Homo sapiens: one gene and its partners. The protein of the gene in region 2 interacts with the protein of the main gene of each other region in a pairwise test. Each region holds a gene or a part of one and is shown on either strand. Other genes may lie near its edges.

What was found.
Region 1: the proteins of IQUB (region 2) and CEP76 interact in binary tests that used the Homo sapiens proteins (3 or more experiments, as listed by UniProt).
Region 3: the proteins of IQUB (region 2) and CHAT interact in binary tests that used the Homo sapiens proteins (3 or more experiments, as listed by UniProt).
Region 4: the proteins of IQUB (region 2) and GPRASP3 interact in binary tests that used the Homo sapiens proteins (3 or more experiments, as listed by UniProt).
Region 5: the proteins of IQUB (region 2) and KRT75 interact in binary tests that used the Homo sapiens proteins (3 or more experiments, as listed by UniProt).
Region 6: the proteins of IQUB (region 2) and ANAPC11 interact in binary tests that used the Homo sapiens proteins (3 or more experiments, as listed by UniProt).
Region 7: the proteins of IQUB (region 2) and ZNF526 interact in binary tests that used the Homo sapiens proteins (3 or more experiments, as listed by UniProt).

Annotation. Positions count from the first base shown.
Region 1 is NC_000018.10:12,685,724-12,689,223, forward strand, and holds part of CEP76 (centrosomal protein of 76 kDa), read right to left. Parts: intron 728-3,500; coding exon 539-727; intron 1-538. UniProt on the Homo sapiens protein: Centrosomal protein involved in regulation of centriole duplication. Required to limit centriole duplication to once per cell cycle by preventing centriole reduplication.
Region 2 is NC_000007.14:123,458,096-123,461,595, reverse strand, and holds part of IQUB (IQ motif and ubiquitin-like domain-containing protein), read left to right. Parts: coding exon 1-239; intron 240-3,500. UniProt on the Homo sapiens protein: Adapter protein that anchors the radial spoke 1 (RS1) complex to the A microtubule of outer doublet microtubules in axonemes. The triple radial spokes (RS1, RS2 and RS3) are required to modulate beating of the sperm flagellum.
Region 3 is NC_000010.11:49,620,537-49,624,036, reverse strand, and holds part of CHAT (choline O-acetyltransferase), read right to left. Parts: coding exon 3,424-3,500; intron 1,941-3,423; coding exon 1,887-1,940; intron 1-1,886. UniProt on the Homo sapiens protein: Catalyzes the reversible synthesis of acetylcholine (ACh) from acetyl CoA and choline at cholinergic synapses.
Region 4 is NC_000023.11:102,727,243-102,730,742, forward strand, and holds part of GPRASP3 (G protein-coupled receptor associated sorting protein 3), read left to right. Parts: intron 1-3,500. UniProt on the Homo sapiens protein: Survival and differentiation promoting protein that plays a role in the regulation of neurosynaptogenesis. Induces phosphatase PP2A activity which results in APP dephosphorylation and inhibits BACE1-mediated processing of APP.
Region 5 is NC_000012.12:52,424,372-52,427,871, reverse strand, and holds part of KRT75 (keratin, type II cytoskeletal 75), read left to right. Parts: intron 1-1,020; coding exon 1,021-1,055; intron 1,056-3,116; coding exon 3,117-3,355; 3' UTR 3,356-3,500.
Region 6 is NC_000017.11:81,894,723-81,897,738, reverse strand, and holds part of ANAPC11 (anaphase-promoting complex subunit 11), read right to left. Parts: intron 1-3,016. UniProt on the Homo sapiens protein: Together with the cullin protein ANAPC2, constitutes the catalytic component of the anaphase promoting complex/cyclosome (APC/C), a cell cycle-regulated E3 ubiquitin ligase that controls progression through mitosis and the G1 phase of the cell cycle.
Region 7 is NC_000019.10:42,226,007-42,228,701, reverse strand, and holds the end of ZNF526 (zinc finger protein 526), read right to left. Parts: coding exon 2,286-2,695; 3' UTR 501-2,285; downstream 1-500. UniProt on the Homo sapiens protein: May be involved in transcriptional regulation.

The DNA of each region.
Region 1 (3,500 bases), on a different chromosome or scaffold from region 2:
AGGGTCCAAGTGATTCTCCTGCCTCAGCCTCCTGAGTAGCTGGGATTACAGGCACACGACACCATGCCCAGATAATTTTTTGTATTTTAGTAGAGATAGGGTTTCACCATGTTGCCCAGACTGGTCTTGAACTCCTGACCTCAGGTGATCCACCTGCCTCAGCCTCCCAAAATGCTGGGATACAGGCATGAGCCACTGCGGCCAGCCAAAATGGTATAGTATTTTATATATAACCTAAGCACATCCTCCTATATACTTTAAATCACCTCTAAATTGTTTAAAAATCTCAATACAATGTAAATGCTACATAAACGTTGTTACACACCATTTTTTAATTTGTACTATTTTTTATTATTGTAATTTTTTACTTTTGTAAGTATTTTTGATCTGCAGTTGGTTGAATCTACAGATACAGAACCTGTGGGTACAGAGGGTTGACTATATGTGCATTTTTCTAAGGCATTCTTTTACAAATGGATTACAAATTCAGAGTAACTATGATATACTGCTACTTAATTCTATTATGTGTGTATAATACCTTGTTTCTACAGAGAAAGGCCAGCAGAGTGCACCACTGCTCCTGTTTACCTCCTCCTCCAATAACAGGGGCTCGTTCATAACCAAGGACATTAACAAATCTTGCTGCTTGCCTTGGAGTATCAAGAAGCCGTCCAGCTCGAAGTGGTTTAACATAGGAACAGACTGGTCTATTTATCCCATTTTCATCCTAGGGAAAAGGGGAAAAACATCTGTAATGACATATTAATCATCCCCAATTATGTTTTTTTCAAATACATTAATGTAGGATAAAATAATTCAGCATACCATTGATCGAGTGCTTACCTTGTATCCAGTATTTGGCTGCAAAGTGCTGTGTATATAATTTCCCTTAATCCTCATCTCCGTTATTTTCATTTTATAGATGAAAACTGAGGAGCTACAGCTATTATGCAACAGAGCCAGGTTCAAGCTCTGAGCTGTTTTACTCCAAAGGCTGTGGCAATAAGAACTCCTCTGAGAAATGTGTGGGTAGGTATGTAGGGGAGGGAGAGGTGCTCTAAGCTGAAGTATTTTTTCACATTACCATATAGAATTTAACAACATATAGCCAGACAGAACAAATAACTCTTCTGATTGGCTGATATAACAGAAATGATTGTAGCTTGATTCTAGTTTGTTTCCATTAGGGCCTCAAATTTAGAGATCCACAGGAAACAATAATTTGTTAACCAAGTCAATTGAAAGCAAAATTTCAAAAAACACTCTAGAAAAAGTTTTACATCCTAAATACAGGATATCTCCTGGTGTTGGTGCTGAATAACTTGTATGCATATATAGGTCTCTGATGACTGTCTACCACTGTGATTTTACAGTGAGTATTACCAAAGTCCACAATCTCTTTACCTTCATGGTTACTGATACGGCACTGTGAAAGGGCCACTTACTATTCAAGATTTGGAGATGACCTACCCTCCCTGATAGGGTTCCTCAGGACATGAGATCTAACCCAGCCAAAAGAAACACCATCTGTTTGAATTATCAGAACCACTGATGTCTTTCTCCACAACCAGAACATCTTTTTCCAATATAGTCCCATACTTTAGCAAGGAAAAAAAAACTCACTTATTTACATTTGATTATAATGAGAAAGATCATTAATTTTTATGTTGCAGAGCAACTTGGCTATAGATTCCACTCATACCTATAGTTCTCAACTATAGAAGGCATCAATTTTTTTTTTTTTTTTTTTGAGACAGAGTCTCGCTGTTGTCCAGGCTGGAGTGCAGTAGTGTGATTTCGGCTCGCTGCAACCTCCGCCCATGGGTTCAAGCGATTCTTGTGCCTCGGCCTCCTGAGTAGCTGGGATTACAGGTATGTGCCACCACACCTGGCTAATTTTTGTATTTTTGTAGAGATGGGGTTTCACGATGTTGACCAGGCTTGGTCTCAAACTCCTGACCTCAAGTGATCCGCCCACCTCGACCTCCCAAAGTGCTGGTATTACAGGTGTGAGCCACTGTGCCTGGCCTAGAGGGCACCGATTTTTAAAACAGAGGATTATTATTCTAATTTTGGGGGGATGTAGAGAACTATGGTTTTCTTTTACATGAACTTAGCATTACTAATAATCTAGTGTGGTATAAGAATACTAAGTCCTGAAATCACAAACTAAATATTAAAAGAATATCCTCAATCCTCAAGTGATTTACAACATTTTCTTAAAACCTAATGGCCTTAGGCTGGGCACGGTGGCTCACGCCTGTAATCCCAGCACTTTGGGAGGCCAAGGTGGGTGGATCACGAGGTCAGGAGATCAATTCCATCCTGGCTAACATGGTGAAACCCCATCTCCACTAAAAATACAAAAAAAATTAGCCAGGCATGTGGTCCCAGCAACTTAGGAGGCTGAGGCAGGAGAATGGCATGAATCTGGGAGGCGGAGCTTGCAGTGAGCCGAGATCGTGCCACTGCACTCCAGCCTGGGCGAGAGCGAGACTCCATCTCAAAAAAAAAAAAAAAAAAACAAAACCTAGTGGCCTTAAAGTTCAATTTCTGTAACTTATTTTAAAGTTTCTTGCACTAAAAAGTTCAAAAAGCATCATTCAATGAATTACTACTATACTATAGCAAAACCAGCTAACAAAGGGTAAAAAGAATAATGAATTTTTAAGTATAATGGCCACGGCAAATCTACAGATCTTTGGTTAGTATTGAGGTGCAGGACTGTTACTCCTATTCTTACAAATCCACTAACAGGCAAGAAAAGATGAGCACATAAGAAGTGGAAGCATTTGCCTAAGTCAATCATCAATAGTAGCATCTTAGAATGTAAGATATATCATTTTATTACAGCAATATTCTAATATTATCTAAATATATCCCCACAAGCTACTTAACTGTTTTGAAAAGTTAATATTTCAACCTCTGAATGGGCACTGTCCAGTGAGAAAATCACTAACCATTATGAGCTATTTAAATTTTAATTAAAATTTAAAATTCAATTATTTTTAGTCATAATAGCCACATTTTGAATGCTCAGTACATGGCTGGTGGCTACCATACTGGTTAGCACAGATACAGAACATTTCCATCATTGCAAAAAGTTCTTGGCCAGGTGTGGTGGCTCACGCCTATGATCCCAGCACTTTGGGAGGCCGAGGCGGGCGGGTCATGAGGTCAGGAGATCGAGACCATCCTGGCTAACACAGTGAAACCCCATCTCTACTAAAAACACAAAAAATTAGCCAGGCATGGTGGCACGTGCCTGTAGTCCCAGCTACTTGGGAGGCTGAGGCAGGAGAATCACTTGAATCTGGGAGGTGGAGGTTGCAGTGAGCCAAGATCGCACCACTGCACTCAACCCTGGGTGACTGAGACTCTGTCTCACAACAACAACAAAAAAAAGTTCTTTACTTTACTTTCAGTGCTGGATACATTAGAAATTTTTTTGGCCTGGATATGTATATTAACGTTTTGATTTATAACTATTGTTTTTATAA
Region 2 (3,500 bases):
ACCCATTGAAATTTTATAAGAAGATTTACTTTTGCCACAGTTGCCAGCTTTATTTGCCTTCTACAGAATTTTCTGTATCATCCACCTCACGCCGCATATACCGGTGTCGTAACTGCATTAACCTTCAGAATGAGGCTCAAAAACGAGAATCATTTTTGAAGTACAAATGTTTACTTCAACAGCTCTACTATACAGAAGCTGATTATGAAGATGATTCTAAAATTGCTTTCTTGATGCAGGTATGGTCAATAAGGGGTGCCAATTATAGCTGAAGCTTGTCAAGGAGGCTATCTTGCAATCTTATGTATGTTTGTGTGTGTGTGTGTGATTGTTTAATGACTCTCTATTCCACTAGACTGTAAGCTCTGTGAGGGCAGGAGTATGCTTTTTTTCCCTCCTGCTCACCATTATACCTCTATAACCTAATACAGTACCAAGTTTTTATTTAAGGCCCTCAATATTTGTTGAATGAATGAATGACTTTTACAGAAACTGATGTTACATATACACATACTAGTGTTTACGAATAACAGTAATAATTAGTGTAAACCAAATGTGACCATAATGGTAAATAACACCAAAAGTGAAAGCTAAGGCTTATAGAAAGTAAAAAAAAAAAAAAACCTTAGGGAAAGGCTTTGATACTTGTCTATGTAAAGTGTTGATATGATACCACACAACTGGAAAGTTTCTGGCCAGAGTTCTTTTGGATGAATCATTGCATTGGATCATTGACCCTACGTAATCTGCTTCTCGTAAGAACTTCTAGCTCTGTGAGAGGGTGGAGCCTGTGAGATCAGGAATTCTGACCTGAATTCCTAACTTAACCACTACTTCGGTCTCTTTGGTTATTCCATGTCTTCTATTGGGTTTAGGCCAGAGGATAGTCTGTGTCTCTACAAAATAAAAACAAATTCCTGACACTGTTTGGACTTAGGTAAGCAAGTGAGAAAACAGAAGGACTTACTTGTTGTTGATATGGCTACCCAACATTAGCCACTTATTAATAAAAGTATATTATAGAGCACAATTGACCTCATTAATGATATTTGTGTTCACAGACTGTCAAATAAGGGCAAATTTTCTGTAAATTAGTTACTAATTAAAATGAACTAAATTGTATTTAATACCAAATAGGAAAGTAGGCACTACTATGAATAGAAAACTTTATAGAGATTAAAAAAAAGATACCAAATGTGATGTGCTTTGTTAAAAAATTCTTCTAAATCCATAGCTTTCAAACTTTTAAATCTCAATCTATAGTAAAAATGTATTTTTATGACAACCTGATATAGGCATGCATGATAATTCTCAATACTCAGTACCTATATGGCTTTACACACTTTATTGAGTTAATCAGCACAAAAATCCTATCAAAATAGGCATTATTTCCATTCTGCAGGTGAGGAAAGGGAAGCACTGAGTGGTTAACTAACTTGTCCAAGTTTACGCTACTAAGTACCAGCACCAGGATTGAAAACTAGGCAGTCTGATTCCCAGCATCCGTACATGTAAACACATGCTGTTCTGCCTCAGAAATAAAAGTTTCCAAAATAGTGTTTATCTTTACCCCTATGGATGTACTCTGATATTTTCTATTCAATCTCAGTCTACTTATTCTGATTTCCATTTGGAAAACTTTGGTATCACCCAAGAGGTAGCAACCCACAGTTTGAAAAGCACAAATTAAAATGATTACATATTTTGTCCAATAGAATGAATATTTTGTTAATAAATTTGATGTTTATTTCAGCTTAAATTCTTATTTGCTACTTTTATTCAGGAATTATTGACATGACAGATGTATATTTCCTTGTAGAGAATCTTAGATGTACTAGGGCTTTAATGTAAGTCACCAAGAAGTGCTGGCTCAATATTCCATGTTGTATTAGTCAGATTTCTCCTGAGAAACAGAACCAATAGAAAATGTTATACATATATGTTATATATATATACATATAAGGAGATTTGTTACAAGGAATTTGCTCACATAATTGTGGAGGCTGGTAAGTCTAAAACCTAAACAGCTGATGGCCCAGTTCAAGTCTGATGACCAGCAGGCTGCTATAGAGCCAGGAGGAGCCAGTGTCTCAATTCAATGGCCATTAGGCAGAAACAGTCTTCCTTACTTGGGGACAGGGTGAACTTTTTGTTCTATTCAGGCCTTCAACTGATTGGATAAAGCCCACTCACATTATGGAAGACACTCTGCTTTACTCAGTCTACTGACTTACTTAAATGTTAATCTCATCCAAAACTACCCTCACATAAACACCAGAATACCGTTTGACCAAATATCTGGGTATCCGGTGGCATCATCAAGTTGATGTAAAATCAACCATTACACATATTGAATGAAAAAATTCTAGGGGAGCATTGTAACCTTTCAGATAAGGATAATCTCCATTAGATGTGATTTAATTTCAGTACCGTATCTATGTAGGGTTTTGGTCTATTACTTTTCCAATGTCTAGGATTAGCAGACAAATATGAGTGTCCAGTAGCTTCCCCCCCCTTGTAATTGGTGTAGTTTTGATTAATATTTATTTCAGTAATAGTATTTGAGGCATAATTTGAATGTTTGAACATTCTCATAAATAGTAAATCTTGTGGACAACAGCAAAGATTAGCATATGTTAAATGTGAACATGATGCCATGTAAAATGAAAAGGTGAAAGTTAATATATATAAAAAGTAAACATTCTGCTTAGACAAGAGATTTGAGTGTTGTACTAGTCACCTCGTTTATCTGTAATGCATACAAATACTGCCTAATATAATAGGCAATAGTATTGCTCTGTTACTGCAAAAATTTCAAGTACAATGACTACTTGAAAGGTAGAAAGCTCTTAGAGACTGTCAACCACACTTATGTGCACATTTGACATTTACATGCAAATAAACACGTTATTCTGTATGATACAATTTCAAAATTATTAGTACAGTTGAGCAACTAAATTAAAAACAAAAATGTAAACAAGATGCATTTTGAATGTAAGTAAAATATATAAAACATTGAATTTTAAAGGTCTATAAATTTATTTTTCATAGCAGCTGTGTACAGAGTATTGTCTTTTTTAGCATTAAGTAAAAGCTAGAATGCATTAGTTGAGCTTAATATATTGAATTACCAATTTATGAAATACTGTTGTAGCTGATGATGACAGGTTCTTTTTGTTTTTTACTTTGGCAGATTGTTTAGGTTTTGTGTACTCATTTTACAGAAAATATTTCTGCTCTCACACTTTTTCACAGAAGCTTTTTTAAAAAATATTCTTTTTACATGCTTATACTTTGTTGAGTTTGTCCGTCTCTGGCAATTCTAAATTTATAATGCAGACCCCATGATAAAAAGTCATTCCAAGAGTTTTAGCTGATAAGATTTACGTTTTTTAAAAAGTTTTAAACAGCTATTTCATTACCCCTCTTTTTGATTAAAACAACCAAGTCTTTTAATTAACACTAAGTGAATTACTTATCTTTATTAAATCTCAACTTCC
Region 3 (3,500 bases), on a different chromosome or scaffold from region 2:
TTGGGAGGCTTTAGCACGCAGGGGCATGACTGGGTTTCCATTTTGTTGTTTTACTGACCCTGCTTATATGGGGAGAATGGACTGAAAGGTGTCACAGGAAGAACAAGGAAGGAGGTTGTGGCAGAGAAGGAACGTGATGTCTTGTGAGGGCAGCAGGGAAGGAGGAGGGAGCTTGGGGACACAGTGGGGAGGGAGAATGACCACATCTGAGCACCATGGGTTACATGAAGGTGCAAGGGAGAAAGCAGAACAAGCACAGGTGACTTCTAGGTTCCCAGACTCACCAACAGGGCATGTGCTGGTGCACTTACGGACATGGCTCGACAAGGTATGGGAGGAGTTGGGGAATGGGGAGGGAGAGGCGAAGCTCTCCTGGCTCATTTGTAATGACTGAGAGACACCCCGGTGGGGATGGCTGAGGCTTGGATGAGCGAGTGTGGGACTCAGGGGAAGGGACACAGCTGTATTTTGTGTCTGTTTAAGTGACTGTCTTGCCCAATAGTCTAAGGACATTTTGAGGGGAGGATGAGGCCTTATTTCTCTTCCTCTTCCCAGCATAACTACATTGCAAAGTGAATAAGTAAATTAATTAATTAATTAATTAAAGGTTCAAAACAGGCACTCAGGAAAATGTTCCAGTCTTAAGTCCTTTTCAATCATTGGACATGGGAACCTCCACGTGGATATGCATGGGTATTCGTGTCTGTGTGAGTGTGCACACACATGTGAAAGTCTGGGATCAGAAGGAAAGTGGTCTCGTGGGGGCAGTCAGTGATGAATGGGCACCAAGTCCCCAGGCCCAGCAAGACAATGGTGTTTGAAAACAGACAGGACGGTGAGCTGGAGGGGCGAGTTCTGGGAGGAAATAGAATGCTGTCCACGAAGAAGGGAGAGACCAAAGACACACCATGAGGAGACAACAGCCCAGGGCCTAGTGACCCATGGCATTTAGAGAGGAGTGAGCAGAGCACACAGGAGCGTGTGGTGCAGAATGCCCTGGACAGCCTGAACTGCTCCACCCTGACAGTCTGGGAGCTCTGCCTGCCCCTCTCCAGAGGGAACAGCCCTACCCTGGAAGGGGCTGTGGGTCTGAGCCTCTGTCCCAAGGCTGGGTAAAGACTGAATTGAGTCAAGTTGAACAAAGAGTGAAGTTTGCCCCTTGCCCCCTCCTTGCTCTGCCACCACCTGGCTGTGTAACCATGGATGAGTTACTTAACCTCTCTGAGCTGCAGCTTCCTCATCTGTGCAAGGGATGCTTCTTTGGGCCTCTCTCTCTCCTTCCAGCTTCTAATGCCCTTATAGTCTCTACCTTGAGAGACTTGGGTCCTCCAGACCCGCTTACTCTCCCTGCTGCTCTCAGACACCCTCCTGCTCTCCTAAGCTTGGCCAGGAGAGGGACTTTCTTCCTAAAATCAAAGAGAGCCTGCGGTGCTTGAGCAGCCCTCTCCATCTGTCAGAACAGCCTCATGTCCACTGAGCTTGGTGGGATTGAGGATACAGTCTCCCGCTGGAGACACCATTCCTCCAAGTGGCAAAGCAGAACTCCCATCACCTTACTCTAACAACTCTTCCTTCCCCGCCTTCCTATGTGTTCTCCAGCTTCAAGTGAATTCACTCCACCTGTGCACGTATGTGTGGAGGGAGGAGACATTTTTAAAAGATCAAGGAAGGATGGTGCTTGCCACAGGAAAAGGAACAGTTAACAGACAGGCCAGCCAGGCTAAAGGTCATCCTGATGGTGGGGGAGTGGGTTGGGGCAGGGACATCTGCTCTGTGCCAGGAGCCAGGAATGGGAATACAGAGCTGGAAAAAGACAAGGTCCCTGCAAGGGAGATAGACGCATAGGCAGACTGTGCTGGAACAGGGCACCACCCTCCCAGTCCTACCTGTCCAGCAGGGCCTTGTAGCTGAGTACACCAGAGATGAGGCTGGCTGCAAACCTGCAGGGAGAAGGGAGGCCTGAGCCCTTCCTCCCAGGGCCTGGCTTCCTCCCTCCCTCCCTCCCTTCTGCCTCCCCTCCCTCCTTCCCTCTTCCTTCCATCTCCTTCCTCTTCCCTCCCTTCTCCCTCCCTCCTCCCTCCCTCATCCCCACTGCCAAACTCTGTGATCGCCCATTGTATGCCGCCCCCGTGTGCACTAATCAGATGTGGTTCCTGCACTAATCAGATGTGGTTCTTGCCCCCCAGCCCCATGCCGAGAGCCCACCACAAGCCTTGGATTCAAAATGGTCCTTTGGTGAGAACTGGGGGTCGAGTAGCTCTTGGGGAAGGGAGAGGAAACTGGAATCATCTTGAAGAGGAGAGGGAGCAGAGAGGGAGACGGAAGCTAGGAGAGGCCACAGAGCAGGCCAGAAGGGGTGGAGGGTGAAGGGTGGAGTTCTTCCTTGGAAAAGCCAGCCCTGGGTCTGGACAGGGCAGGACCCCTGGCCTTGTGGAAAATTTTCTCCTGGGAAAAGCCAGTAATTTGGTCCCTTTCCTCCCACCCCCCGGTACTAATGAAAAGGAAATCGAGTGCTTGGGGAAAGGCACTGGAGAAACGAGCAGCGGGAACTGTCATACCAGGATTCTGGGCCTGGCTTAATTGCACCAGGAGGAAAATACCCCCTCAGATGCAATTGTGAGAACTGTTTTCAGAAGTCATTCATCTGTCCACACCTTCCTTCTTCCCTGGGGAGACCCCAGCTACAGTGGGAGGGAAGGCTGGCCAGCTGGTAGGGTGGGGTGGGGAGGTCTTCCTAGCATGGCTAAGCCCTGCCCAGAGGAGAGGTGGGCCCTGCCTCTTGTCCTCGGGCCACTTTGGTCTGCCCTCCCTCTAAACCGTCCCCACCATTTGCCCCACTCAGGTCTTAAGACCAGACTCTGAGTGACTCCAGAAGGGAAACCCTTTCTCCCTGCACCCATCCTCCATTGTCATTAGCGGCCAGAGGCCCTTCCAACGGCTCAGTGAGCTCTGAAATTACAGCAGATGGCACAGGCTCTGGCTGCTGGCAGGGAGGAATTGTTTCCAGCCTTCTGGGGCCTCTGTTTAGAGCTGGGGGCTCTGGAAGGAAGCAGAGGCCCTCTCAGACAGCCTGGGGCAGTGTTTCCCAGGGACAAGTACTGGCGTGGTCCAGGGACACACGCCTCCTCCCAGGGCCTCAGCCAGGTGGAGGCTGTGGGGATATTTGGACCCATGACCTCCATGAGTGTCCATTCCACTGCAAGATAAATATAGACTAAGGCTAATTGTGTGATTGTCACTCGAGTGCAGCCACACCTAACCTTGCTCCCCACCTGATGGCCTGGACGTCCACTGTCTCGGGGCATTTGACCCCAGGAAGCTCAGCCGAGGCTCCAGCTTTGGCCTTTCTTTGCTGGCACTGGGGTAAGGGCCCCTGCCTTGGGTGGGTCCCCAGGTTATGAGCTAGGAGCACCAAGGCCTCACCTCAGCTGGTCATCGGTGCCAGGGAAGTGCTGCCGAGCAAAGATCACGGCAGGGCTGGAGTTGACAGGCAGGGCCAG
Region 4 (3,500 bases), on a different chromosome or scaffold from region 2:
ATTCACAATATCAACTTCCGTCCTAAGGCTGATAGCTTGATGGCTACAACAATTCCAGGAGGTAAGCAACTTCCTGAGGAAGAAGAAAAGACAATCTTTTCTGATGACTTTGTCTTATGAATGAGGACACTTTCCTCAGAAGTCCATCTGTAACCTTCCCCTAATGTCACATTGAGTGGAATTTGATCAATGCCTCTTCCTAAACAAGAGAGTACCAAGGGGATAGATTATCCGTAGACCAAAGAGACTCACTCTTGGAAATGGAATTAGCCTCTCTGTGACATGTGACTAAAAGGAGGAGAAAGTCAGTAACCTGCAGTGGCAACTATGCAAAAATGGCATCCTTTTAGTAAAGGGTTATGGTAAGCAACACAGAATATACAAAGCACTGAGGCTACAGCACAAAGAGCACAGTGACACTGACTTAGCAATTATGACCTTTAAAAACCATGTAGTTCTCATCTATTCTTTCTTGCTTTCTCCAGCCCACTCCATAATAGGAATAGATCAGAAATTTTAAAAGAACTAGAAAGATCTGATATACACATGTTGTGCAGGATATCAAATAGTTTTCTCAGTATACACAATAATCCTGTAAAGTAGTTAATGCCAGCTCCCTTTTAAGGATGAAGAAACTGGGTTATAAAGACGTTAAGTACCTTTGCTAAAGTTACACAAATAGTGACAAAGTCTGTATTCAGACTTTGGACTGTCTGGCTCTGAAATCTGGGTACTCCCAACTCTTCTGTACAAACTCCCTTTAGAATGTACTCCCAGGGCTCAGAAACTAGTTACTCTAGTCTAAGCAAGCACTTAACAATCATTAGGCAGTTAATGTAAACTATAGATTCTAATAGTATCATGCACTGCCTCTTGATGGTGGTGGTGGTGGTAGTGACATAGACAACTTTTCTCTCCTAGCATTAAGTTACAGTTCCTCAGACTTCATTACCAATAATATATATATTTTTCAATTTTTAAAGATTTTTTGTAGAAACAAGGTATAACTGCATTGCCCAGGCCAGTCTTGAATTCCTGCACTCAAGTGACCCTCCCACCTTGGCCTCCCAAAGTGCTGGAATCACAGGCATGAGCCATTGTGCATGGCCATTACCAGGAATTTTGATTCAGGAGGTCAAAAGTCTAATTTGCATTGCACATTACAAATTTTTGGGCTGAGATGTCAGGTTCAGGGAGCCCCATAAATTTCCTGTACCTGGGAGTGAAAAGAGCTAATATTTATGGAGCAGCTGGGTTTTCCAGGGCAACCTAATTCCCAGATGTGATGTTCAGCAGAAAAGAAGCAGACAAAAGCAATGTGCACTGCTTTTTTTTTTTTTTTTTTTTTTTTTTAAATAGAGAGGGGGTCTTGCTATGTTGCCTAGGCTGCTCTTGAGCTCCTGGACTTAAGCGATCCTCCCACCTTGGACTCCCAAAGTGCTGAGATTAAAGGTGTGAGCCACCACACCCAGCCCATTTTAAATTTTTTATTTTTTATTTTTCACTGCTCTTTAGCTTCCCTGTTAAAACCCATAGCCAGACTTCCAGTTTCAGTTCCAACATGTAAGAACTTGTAAGTCATTGCTCCTGTACTTACAACCAGAAAAAAATCTGAACAAACAGAATCAACAACATTTCTTAGATTCTTCAAAGAACTGAGGCATAGGACAGTTGACTACCCCAAATTCTGAAGGCAAATCCAGAGAGTCACAGCCTATTTCTTCTTTCATAGAACAGAAACTGCTAGAGACATAAATAGGTAAGAGCACTTAAATGTAATTTTGATGAATTGCTGGAGACTGAGTGTGGAATAATATGAGAGTGAGAAACCCCTGAGGATCTGCAGTCAGGGAGGTCCCCACACTTTTGTGGGCATTACTTCCAAGAAACCCACCATATTCTTGCAGTGAAGGGCCTCATGGCCCCTGCAGTGGGAAGGGAACTGTACTTTTGTGAAATACACCCAGAGCCTTCTTCATTTTTTAAAAAAAAAGCCTATTCTGTGGTGGAAAAGACTTTATCAGAGCCTTATCTCAGCTGAGGGAAAGGCGTTTCTCCTATTTCAGCCCCCTTTAGGTTTCTAGTCTCATGTAAGGGAGAGAAAGGCGCTAAAATAAAACTCTTATGAAAATCAAAGCCCAGGGACACAGGCCCACAAAAGACTGAAATTTAATCATAATATTATAGAACACTTCCTCTCCTCTGCACTTCACCACCATGCTAACAAGGCTTTATTATAATAATAGTGGATAACAGTGAATAACAGTTAAAAGAGCTGCAAAATGTAAACTCTCCCTGAGAAGAATATTTAGGGAAATGCTAGAAATCAAAAATACTGTAACAGAGCCCAGGCACAGTGGCTCACGCCTGTAATCCCAACACTTTGGGAGGCTGAGGTGGGTAGATCACCTGAGGTCAGGAGTTCAAGATCAGCCTGGCCAACATGGAGAAACCCCATCTCTACTAAAAGTACAAAAATTAGCTGGGCGTGGTGGCGGGTGCCTGTAATCCCAGCTACTCAGGAGGCTGAGGCAGGAGAATCGCTTGAACCCGGGAGGTGGAGGTTGCAGTGAGCCGAAATTGTGCCACTGCACTCCAGCAAATGAAGAATGCCTTTGATGGGATTATCAGTAGACTGGACACAGTTGAGGAAAGACTCAGCAAGCTTGAGTAGCAGTCCCCAATCTTTTTTGGCACCAGGGGCAGATTTCGTGGAAGACAATTTTTCCATAGACTGGGGGGCGAATGGCATGGTTTCAGGACAATTGAAGTGCATTACATGTATTATGTACTTTATTTCTATTATTATTACATTGTAATAGATAATGAAATAATTATACAATTCACCATAATGTAGAATCACTGGGAGCCCGGAGATTGTTTTTGTAAAGCTAGATGGTCCCATCTTGGGGTGATGGGAGGCAGTGACAGATCATCAGGCATTAGATTCTCATAAGGAGCATGCAACCTAGATCCTTCACATGTGCAGTTCACAATACGGTTTGTGCTCTTATGAGAATCTAATGCCACTGCTGATCTTCCAGAAGGCGGAGCTCAGGCGGCAATGAAAGTGATGGGGAGTGGCTGTATATACAGATGAAGATTTACTGGCTAGCCCGCCACTCACCTCCTGCTGTGTGACCCAGTTCCTAACAGGCCATGGACGGGTCCAGGTCCGTGGCCTAGGGGCTGGGGACTCCTGAGCTTGAAGATAGGTCAATAGTGTAAACTAAAAAGTATGTAAGACATGTCTCAATTGATTTAGAAGTTTATTTTGCCAAGGTGAAGACATTCCCAGAAGAAAAGAGCATGGAATCACAGAAACAGTCTGTGGTCTGTGCCTTTATCCAAAGATAATTTTGAGGGCTTCAATATTTAAATGGAAACAGCAGGCTAGAGGGGAAGAGGGAGGGTACAGTAATCCACATGATGCAAGGGAAAAGGAGCAGAAACAGGAATAGTCAATTCTGTATTCCTCTGGCTCACAGTAAATCAGCACT
Region 5 (3,500 bases), on a different chromosome or scaffold from region 2:
TCTCTGGCCCTCAATTTCTTCAATGATAAAATGAAAAGGTCAGATTACATGATCCGCAAAGCTTCATGGGAGCTTTGTGCTCTGCCAGTTAGGAGCTGTGTAGCCAAGAGCAGATACTTAACCTCTCCACCTCTCAGTGTTCTCATCCAATAAAATGTGAATAACAATAGTTCTAAACTCTCACATTATTAAAAGGGTTAAAATAAGGGAATACACACAAAGCTCTTAGAACAATGCATGGTACACAGCGTGTTCGATAAATGTTAGCTATCATTCAGTTTCATGGCCAAAGACATAGGCTTTGGTGTCAGATGAATCTGTCTTCAAGTCCAGCTTTGCGACTATGGGCAAGTTAGTTAACTTGTCTGAGCTTCCATTTCTCCCTCTATAAAAGTGAGCAAATAATACCTACCTCATGGGGTTGTTGAGAGAACTAAGTGGTGTGATATAAGTAACAGGTAATCAACAGCTGTTACCTCTTGTTAAGTTTCTCAGTATGTGTTTATGAATGAATGCCAGTTCTGTCCTGAAGATGCTAAAGCAAAGTTACTTGGTTGCTAAGATAATAATAAACTGATATTACTATTGTTATTTTTATGACTCAGACGCCTCTCCACACCTATATACAATAAGCTCAGCCCTGGCTCAGTGCATGACAATGGTCCCTTGTTGAGAGACAAATCTTATTATAGGACAGGCCCTTCTTTCCAGTTGATGCCAGTATATGATTACTTTTAATTTCCTTAAGGCATCTAACTAGTTTAAACCAAAAATTGTATTTCTGAGATTATAGATTTTGCTCCTGTGAACCTCAAACTCCACCTTATTTTATTCATTAGATTATTAATATTATCTTTAATACTACTAGTTCTCAAATAATTTCAACCTGCATTACTTCTGCAATAAAAATAATAAAGTATGTTTAAATGCTTTGTCAACAATTACAAAAGTGTCATTGCAAAGGCCCTTAAGCTGCTGGCCACATTGGTAACCTTCCTTCTCCCTGCTCTTCCCAATCAGGTTGAGTGGAGAGGGAGTTTCTCCAGTTAACATTTGTGAGTATGACATACTTCTTGGGCCATTTGGAGTGTGTGTGGTAGAGGGGATGGGGATGTGGTGGGCTTGCCAGAGGGTGAAGATATGACGGGTTAGACGGGATCTCACAGACAGCGTTCATTTGGAGAAGGTTTGAGGTTTTGGGTCCCTTAAAAAGCAAGCCATATTAGGAGTCTTTAATGTCACAGTTCTTTCCTCTTTGAGAGTGAGGGTGTCACAGAAGGGGTGATGAGAGGTTTGATGTCATTGTTCTGAGTGGGTTTAAAAGATCCTGGCCACATCTCCTACCTCCCAGAATTCCCTGCCTTTTTGTTGGGGCTGCAAGCCTAGCACAGAGGTGAGCACTTGATGTAGACGGGATTTATGAAAATTCCTGGTCTGGCTTGGACCTTTGAAGGGAGCCTTCATGCTGTGGACAAGAGCATTGCCAACTAGGCAGCTTCTCTCCTAAACAGTTTGAGAAGAAGCTCCACTGCTTGGCTCAACTCTGCCGAGTATAACTGCAGAAGGATGCCAAGGGTTTTCAAGGCAGTAAGGGCAGCATAAAATATGGCAGTTGGCTACAGTAGCTCTAAAACAGGAGAGGTATTAACAAGCTGGCATGGCCCTGTGCTGGTGAGAGAAGAAGTGGTCATTCGCAGAGCTCAGTGCTGGCATCACAAGGGCAACAGAAATGACTCTTACAACTCACCCTCTACAAGTGAGTTTGAGTTTGGTTTTCTTGATGGGCATTCATAAGGGCAATTCATTATATTAGCCAATGATTCTAGAAGGCAGAGCCCTCTGAACCACCCAGGTGTCCTTCCTCCCTGATGTCTTTGTCTAGTGGTGCCAGAGACCCTCAAAGCTAATTTTGGGGACAGGCCTTCAAGCATAACCTTGAAGCTCCTTTTCTCTTGAAAACACCTAATTGTCTGTATTAGTTTTCCAGGGCTGTTGCAAAAAGTACCACCAGTCAGGTGGTTTAAAGCAACAGAAATGTCTTGTCTCACAGTTCCGGAGGCTGAAATTAAGGGTTAGCAGGGCCCTGGTCCCTCTGAAACTTGGAGCCTGGACCAGCCTCCTGCTCTGTATATCATGCAGGGTGGCACTATCCCCTCTCCAAACCAGATAGTGTTCTGGAACACGGAGGCAGCATGGGCAGCCCAGCCCCCCTCCAGCCTCCTCCTAGCTCTGGCGGTGGCCATCCATCCTCGGTGTTCCTTGGCTTGTGGCTGCATCCCTCCACTCTCTGTTTCTGTGATTGTATGACCGTGTCCCTGTGTGTCTGTGGCTTCAGATGAATGTCTTCCTTCTTTCTGTATGGACACCAGTCATGTTAGATCAGGGCCCACCCTACAGACTTTATCTTAACTTGGTTATACCTGCAACGATCCCATTTCCAAATAAGGTTGCATTCACGGATACTGGTGTTAACACTTCACCATAGGTTTTTGAAGGACACAATTCATCCTATAACGGAGTCTATTTTTTTAAAATTTGATTTTCCTTCGGCAGGACCCAAAGTAGGGTGCTAGAATGTGTAAGGGGATGAGTTATAAATTAGGAGAAGAATAGGTTGGGAGGAGAACGGGGGCAGAGTTCACTGGCCAACAGGTTAATCTGTCACTTGATCCATCAAGAATATTCCAGCCTCCACCCTGGGATTCTGAGTGTGGGGCTGGGAGACGCTGAGGGAAGAGGAGTGTGCCCCTCCCCCCATAAGCATCCAGAAGGAAGAGAAACTCTGGAGTCAGGCTCAGACAGGGAGACAGACCCAGACGGCACAGCAGGAGGATCAAAGGGAAAGCAGGTGGACTGGAGCTGCTTCCAGGAGGAGAGGGCTCCAGTAGGTTCTGGAAGGGGAGGAGGAAGCCATTCCAGCCTAAGAGGCTGCCTGGAGCTGCAGCTCAGGAACACAGGCAGTGATCTCACTAAGCAGGGGACATTGGAAGGAGGCAAACTGCTGGCTGACGAGACCACCCCCTCCCCACCCAAGGACTCCAGGGCACAGGCCCTCACACTCCCAGCTGTCTTCTCGCTTGCACTTGATCTGACCACACCTCCTCTCTTCCCGGCAGCTGTGGTCACCTCTACTCTTTCCAGTGGCTATGGAAGCGGCAGCAGCATTGGAGGTGGAAACCTGGGCCTCGGTGGGGGCAGCGGCTACTCCTTCACCACCAGTGGTGGGCATAGCCTGGGTGCAGGCCTGGGAGGTTCTGGATTCAGTGCCACCAGCAACCGGGGCTTAGGGGGCAGTGGTTCTAGCGTCAAGTTTGTCTCCACCACATCCTCCAGCCAGAAGAGCTACACGCACTAAGAGAGCCCCATGGCTCCCTCTACCCTGCCTTGAGGCCTGTTTGCAGTCACACCTGGACACCAGGGTCCTCCTCCTTCCTCTCTCCTTGTAAGGTGCACCTGTGCTGCTGGGAGCCTGGAGTACTGGCTATACCCATTCCCAGGCC
Region 6 (3,016 bases), on a different chromosome or scaffold from region 2:
GCCAAGGCAGGCAGATCCCTTGAGCCCAGGAGTTCAAGACTAGCCTTGGCAACATAGCAAAACCCTGTCTCTACAAAAAATAAAAAAATAAAAAATTAGCCAGGCATTGTGGAGCATGCCTGTGGTCCCAGCTACTTGAGAGGTGGAGGTGGGAGGATCACTTGAGCTGAGGAATTGAAGGCTACAGTGAGCTATGATTTTGCCACACTGCACTGCCGCCTGGGTGACAGCAAGACCCTGTCTCAAAAAAAAAAAATTGTACTAAGATTCAGTCATCTCAATTTCACCTTAAGAAGCAAAGACAGGGGCGGGTGCAGTGGCTCACACCTGTAATCCTGGTACTTTGGGAGGCCGAGGTGGACGGATCACCTGAGGTCAGGAGTTTTAAGACCAGCCCGGCCAACATGGTGAAACCCTGTCTCTGCTAAAAATACAACAAGGGCTGGGCGCAGTGGCTCATGCCTGTAATCCCAGCACTTTGGGAGGCTGAGGTGGGCGGATCACGAGGTCAAGAGATCGAGACCATCCTGGCCAACATGGTGAAACCCCATTTCTGTTAAAACTACAAAAATTAGCTGGGCATGGCGGCGAGCGCCTGTAGTCCCAGCTATTCGGAAAGCTGAGGCAGGAGAATCACTTGAACTAGGGAGGCGGAAGTTGCAGTGAGCCAAGATCGTGCCACTGCACTCCAGCCCTGGTGACAGAGTGAGACTCTGTCTCGAAAATAAATAAATAAATAAAAATAAAAATACAACAAATTAGCTGGCTGTGGTGGTGCATGCCTGTAATCCCAGCTACTTGGGAGGCTGAGGCCGGAGAATCCTTTGAACTCAGAAGGGTGGGGGTTGCGGTGAGCTGAGATGGTGCCATTGCACTCCAGTCTGAGCAACAGGGCAAGACTCTATCTCAAAAAAAAAAAAAAAAAAAAAAAAAAAAAAAAGCAAAGGAGGCAGATGAGTGTGGTGGTATGCTACTTGGGAGGCTGAGACAGTAGGATGGCTGGAGCCCAGGAGTTCACGTCCAGCTTGGGCAACACAGTGAGACCCTGTCAATCAATATGGGCATGCACCTGGCCCTACAAAAATACGCCTGGTTACTTGGGGTAGTGAGTAGCTTCTCGGTCCTCCCCATTCCCCACTGTCCTCTCCATTCCCCACTGTCCTCTGGGGAGTTCTTCTTGTCCTCCCTGGGCAAAACCTTGACCCTTGCTTCTGCTTTACGCTCATTTCGGTCTCATGAAAAACCATTTCGCTGATGCAAAACTCTGCTTTCAACCTAAACATAATCAAACATTTCCACTTTTTTTCTTTTTTTTTGAGATGGAGTTTCACTCTTGTTGCCCAGGCTGGAGTGCAATGGTGCGATCTTGGCTCACCACAACATCTGCCTCCCAGGTTCAAGCGATTCTTTTGCCTCAGCCTCCTGAGTAGCTGGGATTACAGGCATGCACCACCATGCCCGGCTACTTTTTTGTATTTTTAGTAGAGACGGGATTTTACCATGTTGGCCAGGCTGGTCTCAAACTCCTGACCTCAGGTGATCCATCCACCTCGGCCTCCCAAAGTGCTGGGATTACAGGCACCTGCCACCATGCCCGGCTAATTTTTTTGGATTTTTAGTAGAGTCGGGGTTTTGCCATGTTGGCCAGGCTGGTCTCGAACACCTGGCCTGAAGCAATCCGCCTGCCTTGGCCTCCCAAAGTGGTGGGATTACAGGTGTGAGCCACTGCGCCTGGCCTATGCCATTCAATTTTGAGAATTTTCAAATAAAAAGTTTAAACTAATCTTTTTTTTGTTTGTTTTTTGAGATGGAGTCTTGCTCTTGGCTCACTGCAACCCCCGTCTCCCAGGCTCAAGAGATTCTCCTGCCTCAGCCTCCCCAGTAGCTGGGATTACAGGCACACGCCACACACCCAGCTAATTTTTGTATTTTTAGTAGAGATGGCGTTTCACTATGTTGGCCAGGATGGTCTCAATCTCCTGACCTTGAGATCCATCCACTTCAGCCTCCCACAGTGCTGGGATGACAAGTGTGGGCCACCACACCCTGCCTTGATCTCTTGACCCTGTGATCTGCCTACCTTGGCCTCCCACAGTGCTAGGATGACAGGTGTGAGCCACCGTGCCGGCCTCCATCTCTTGACCTTGTGATCCGCCCGCCTCGGCCTCCCACAGTGCTGGAATAACAGGCGTGGGCCGCCATGCCGGCCTCCATCTCTTGACCTTGTGATCTGCCCGCCCAGACTCTAATCTCTTTTTAATCCCACGTATTTCACAGCTGAGTTTCATCCTATGGAGTCTGTGACAGGATCTTTATATAAACATGGGTACCAACCACCTGGCTTTTTTTCTATCAACTTTTCTTCATGAGATGAAAATGAAAATGTTGGGGGGGGCACGGTGGTTCGCGCCTGTAATCCCATCCCTTTGGGAGGCTGAGGCGGGTGGATCACCTGAGGTTGACAGTTCGAGACCAGCCTAACATGGAGAAAGCCTGTCTCTACTAAAAAATACAAAATTAGCCGGGTGTAGTGGCACATGCCTGTGATCCCAGGTACTTGGAAGGCTGAGGCAGGAGAATCGCTTGAGCCCAGGAGGCGGAGGTTGCAGTGAGCCGAGATCGCGCCATTGCACTCCAGCCTGGGCAACAAGAGTGAAACTCCATCTCAAAAAAAAAAAAAAAAAAAAAGAAAAGAAAGAAAGAAAAGAAAATAAAAATGTGGGCCAGGCAAAGTGGCTCACACCTGTAATCCCAGCACTTTGGAAGGCTGAAGCGGGCAGGTCACCTGAGGTCAGGAGTTCAAGGCCAGCCTAGCCAACAAGGCAAAACCCCGTCTCTACTAAAAATAAAAAAATTAGCCCAGCATGGTGGCACATGCCTGTAATCCCAGCTGCTTGGAAGGCTGAGGCAGGAGAACCGTTTGAACCCGGGAGGCAGAGGTTGCGGCAAGCCGAGATCGCGCCATTGCACTCCAGCCTGGGAAACAAGATCGAAACTCGGTCTCAAAAAAAAAAAA
Region 7 (2,695 bases), on a different chromosome or scaffold from region 2:
GTCTCTACTAAAATACAAAAATTAGCTGGGTGCAGTGGTGGGGGCCTGTAATCCCAGCTATTAGGGAGACTGAGGCAGGAGAATCGCTTGAGCCTGGAAGGTGGAGGTTGCAGTGAGCTGAGACTGCACCACTGTGCTCCAGCCTGGGCAACAGAGCAAGACTCCATCTCAATCAATCAATCAATCAATGGAGAGAAAGACTATTATCCTAGGTAACCTCTGAAAAAGGTGGGAATCTTCCTGCTCTCAAGACCTTTGATGTTTCGAAGCCCCTTCAAATCCCAATAGCTCTGACACTGGTTTACTTTTCCTCTAGTTAGAATGAATCTTCCTCTGATCCCCTACCCCTGCACAAGTTTCAGGTCTTAATCACTCAGAATAGTATGGGTTACAAATGTGGGCCGCAGGGGCCTCCCGTACTCAAATCTCACATCTCTGCCTAGCTGTGAAACCTTGGGCAAATCTCTGTCCTTAGTTTTTTTTTCCTTTTTTTTTTTTTTAAGTGACAGGGTCTTGCACTGTTGCCCAGACTGGAGTGCAGTGGTGTGAACACAGCTCACTGCAGCCTCAATCTCCCTCATATCAAGCAATCCTGCCTCCGCCTCAGCCTCCAGAGTAGCTGGGAATACTGGTGTGCACCACCATGCTCGGCCAATCATTTTTATTTTTAATAGAGACAAAGTCTCTCTCTCTTGCCCAGGTCTTGAATTCTTGAGCTCGAGTGATCCTCCTGCCTCAGCCTCCCAAAGCACTCGGATTACAGGCATGTGCCACCAGGCCTGGCTAACTTTTAAGTTTTGTAGAGATGAGGTCTTGCTGTTGCCCAGGCTGGTCTCGAACTCCTGGCCTTAAGTGATCCTCCTGCCTCAGTCTCCCAAAGCACTGGGATTGCAAGCGTGAGCCACCGCACCTGGCCAGTTTATTTTTATTTTTATTTTCTTTTGAGAGGGAGTCTCACTCTGTCGCCCAGGCTGGAGTGCAGTGGCGCGATCTCGGCTCACTGCAAGCTCCGCCTCCCGGGTTCACGCCATTCTCCTGCCTCAGCCTCCTGAGTAGCTGGCCACCACAGGCGCCCGCCACCACTCCTGGCTAATTTTTTGTATTTTTAGTAGAGACGGGGTTTCACCGTGTTAGCCAGGATGGTCTCGATCTCCTGACCTCGTGATCTGCCCGCCTCGGCCTCCCAAAGTGCTGGGATTACAGGCGTGAGCCACCACGCCCAGCCACCAGTTTTAAAAATCTATACAACAGGGATAATATGAAATCTATGTCACAAGCCTGTTGGGATCATAGTACACATACAGTGGTAAGTGTGGTGCTTGCCTCAGGTAGGCAGTCAGATGAATAACTGGATGGTCTCCAAATACACCAAGAGCTCACCCTCTTGCAGTGCTGTCTGCCTGGAATGTTCTTTTCCTCTTTCACTGCCAGATTCCTACTTTTCCTTCAGGGACTACCTTCTCTAGGAAGTCCTTAACTCCTGATCTCCCACCATGGAGGTCTGTTTCCTGGGATCCCACTGTCCCTGCACATCCCCATCACAGCCCAGAGAAGCCTTAGGCCTGACTCATCTCTGCCCCCAGCATCACCCAGTATGGGAGAAGGGAGGCTTTAGGACACACAGGCTGAATGAATCAATGAGACACACTCAGAGAGCAAGCTATCTGTACTTGTGCGTTTCTCCTACCAGATTGTGCATGCCTCCTGTGGGCAGAGCCTGTGCTGACTTGCTCCTGGGTCTCCAGCATCACCCAGTCTGGAGCTGAGGACCTGGGTACCTACAGATTTCCTTCCACACTGTCAGAATTGAGATGAAGGAAGCCCAGAGAAATCAAGTACCCTCCACCAGGCAGAGCAAAGTCCTGGGTGCCCAAAATCCAGGGAAGGCAAGGGCTGGGGGTACAAGCAGAGGATCTGAAGAGGTATATGAGAGTGGCCAGCACAGACCTGGCATAAGCTTGGTGCTCAGTGAAGGTTACCTGATGTTGCTGGGCACCAGGGTGATGCAGTGCAAAGGGCCTTGGCCAACCCACTTTGCAGCATAGCTGGGTGACCTGGTACAGATCACATCGCATTTCAGAGCTTCAGTTTCCCCTCAGGCAGAGAAAGATGACAAGAGAAGCCTGGAAGGGTTGTTCTGGGGAGTCAGTGGGTAAAAAGAGGCCAGGGTGGATCCTGGCACATGGTGGGTACCAGACCAGTTTGTCAGAGGAGGTCCTCTCTCCCCAGAGGTACCCACACTGGCTGTTGCAACCAAACCCTTTTGTTGTTGCTTTTCAGCTGCGTCACACGAAGGCCGTGTCCAACTGCAAGAGCCCGCCTGCTTCACTGGCCCCCAGTGCAGCCTGGCACAGCTGCAGGGTGTCCTCAAGCGCCAGTGGCTGGGATGTCTCAATGATGGCGATGGTCTCCCCCAGCTCTGTGCACATGATAGTCTGTTGAGGCTCTGGAGGTGGGGGTGGGGCAGGAGATGGTGATCTGGGAGGCTGTAGCGTCAAAGTCCGAGCTCGGGCATGGACCCGCTGATGCAGTCGCAAGCCCGCCATGGCGCGGAACCAGCGGCCACAAGTCCCGCAGTAGTAGGGACTCTTGTTGTAGAGACCAGTGATGGGGAGGCGGGGGGCGCGGGCAAAGGCGACTGGCCGCAAGTGCAACCGCCGGTGCTGCTGCAGGTTGGAGCTCTGTGTGAAGCGCT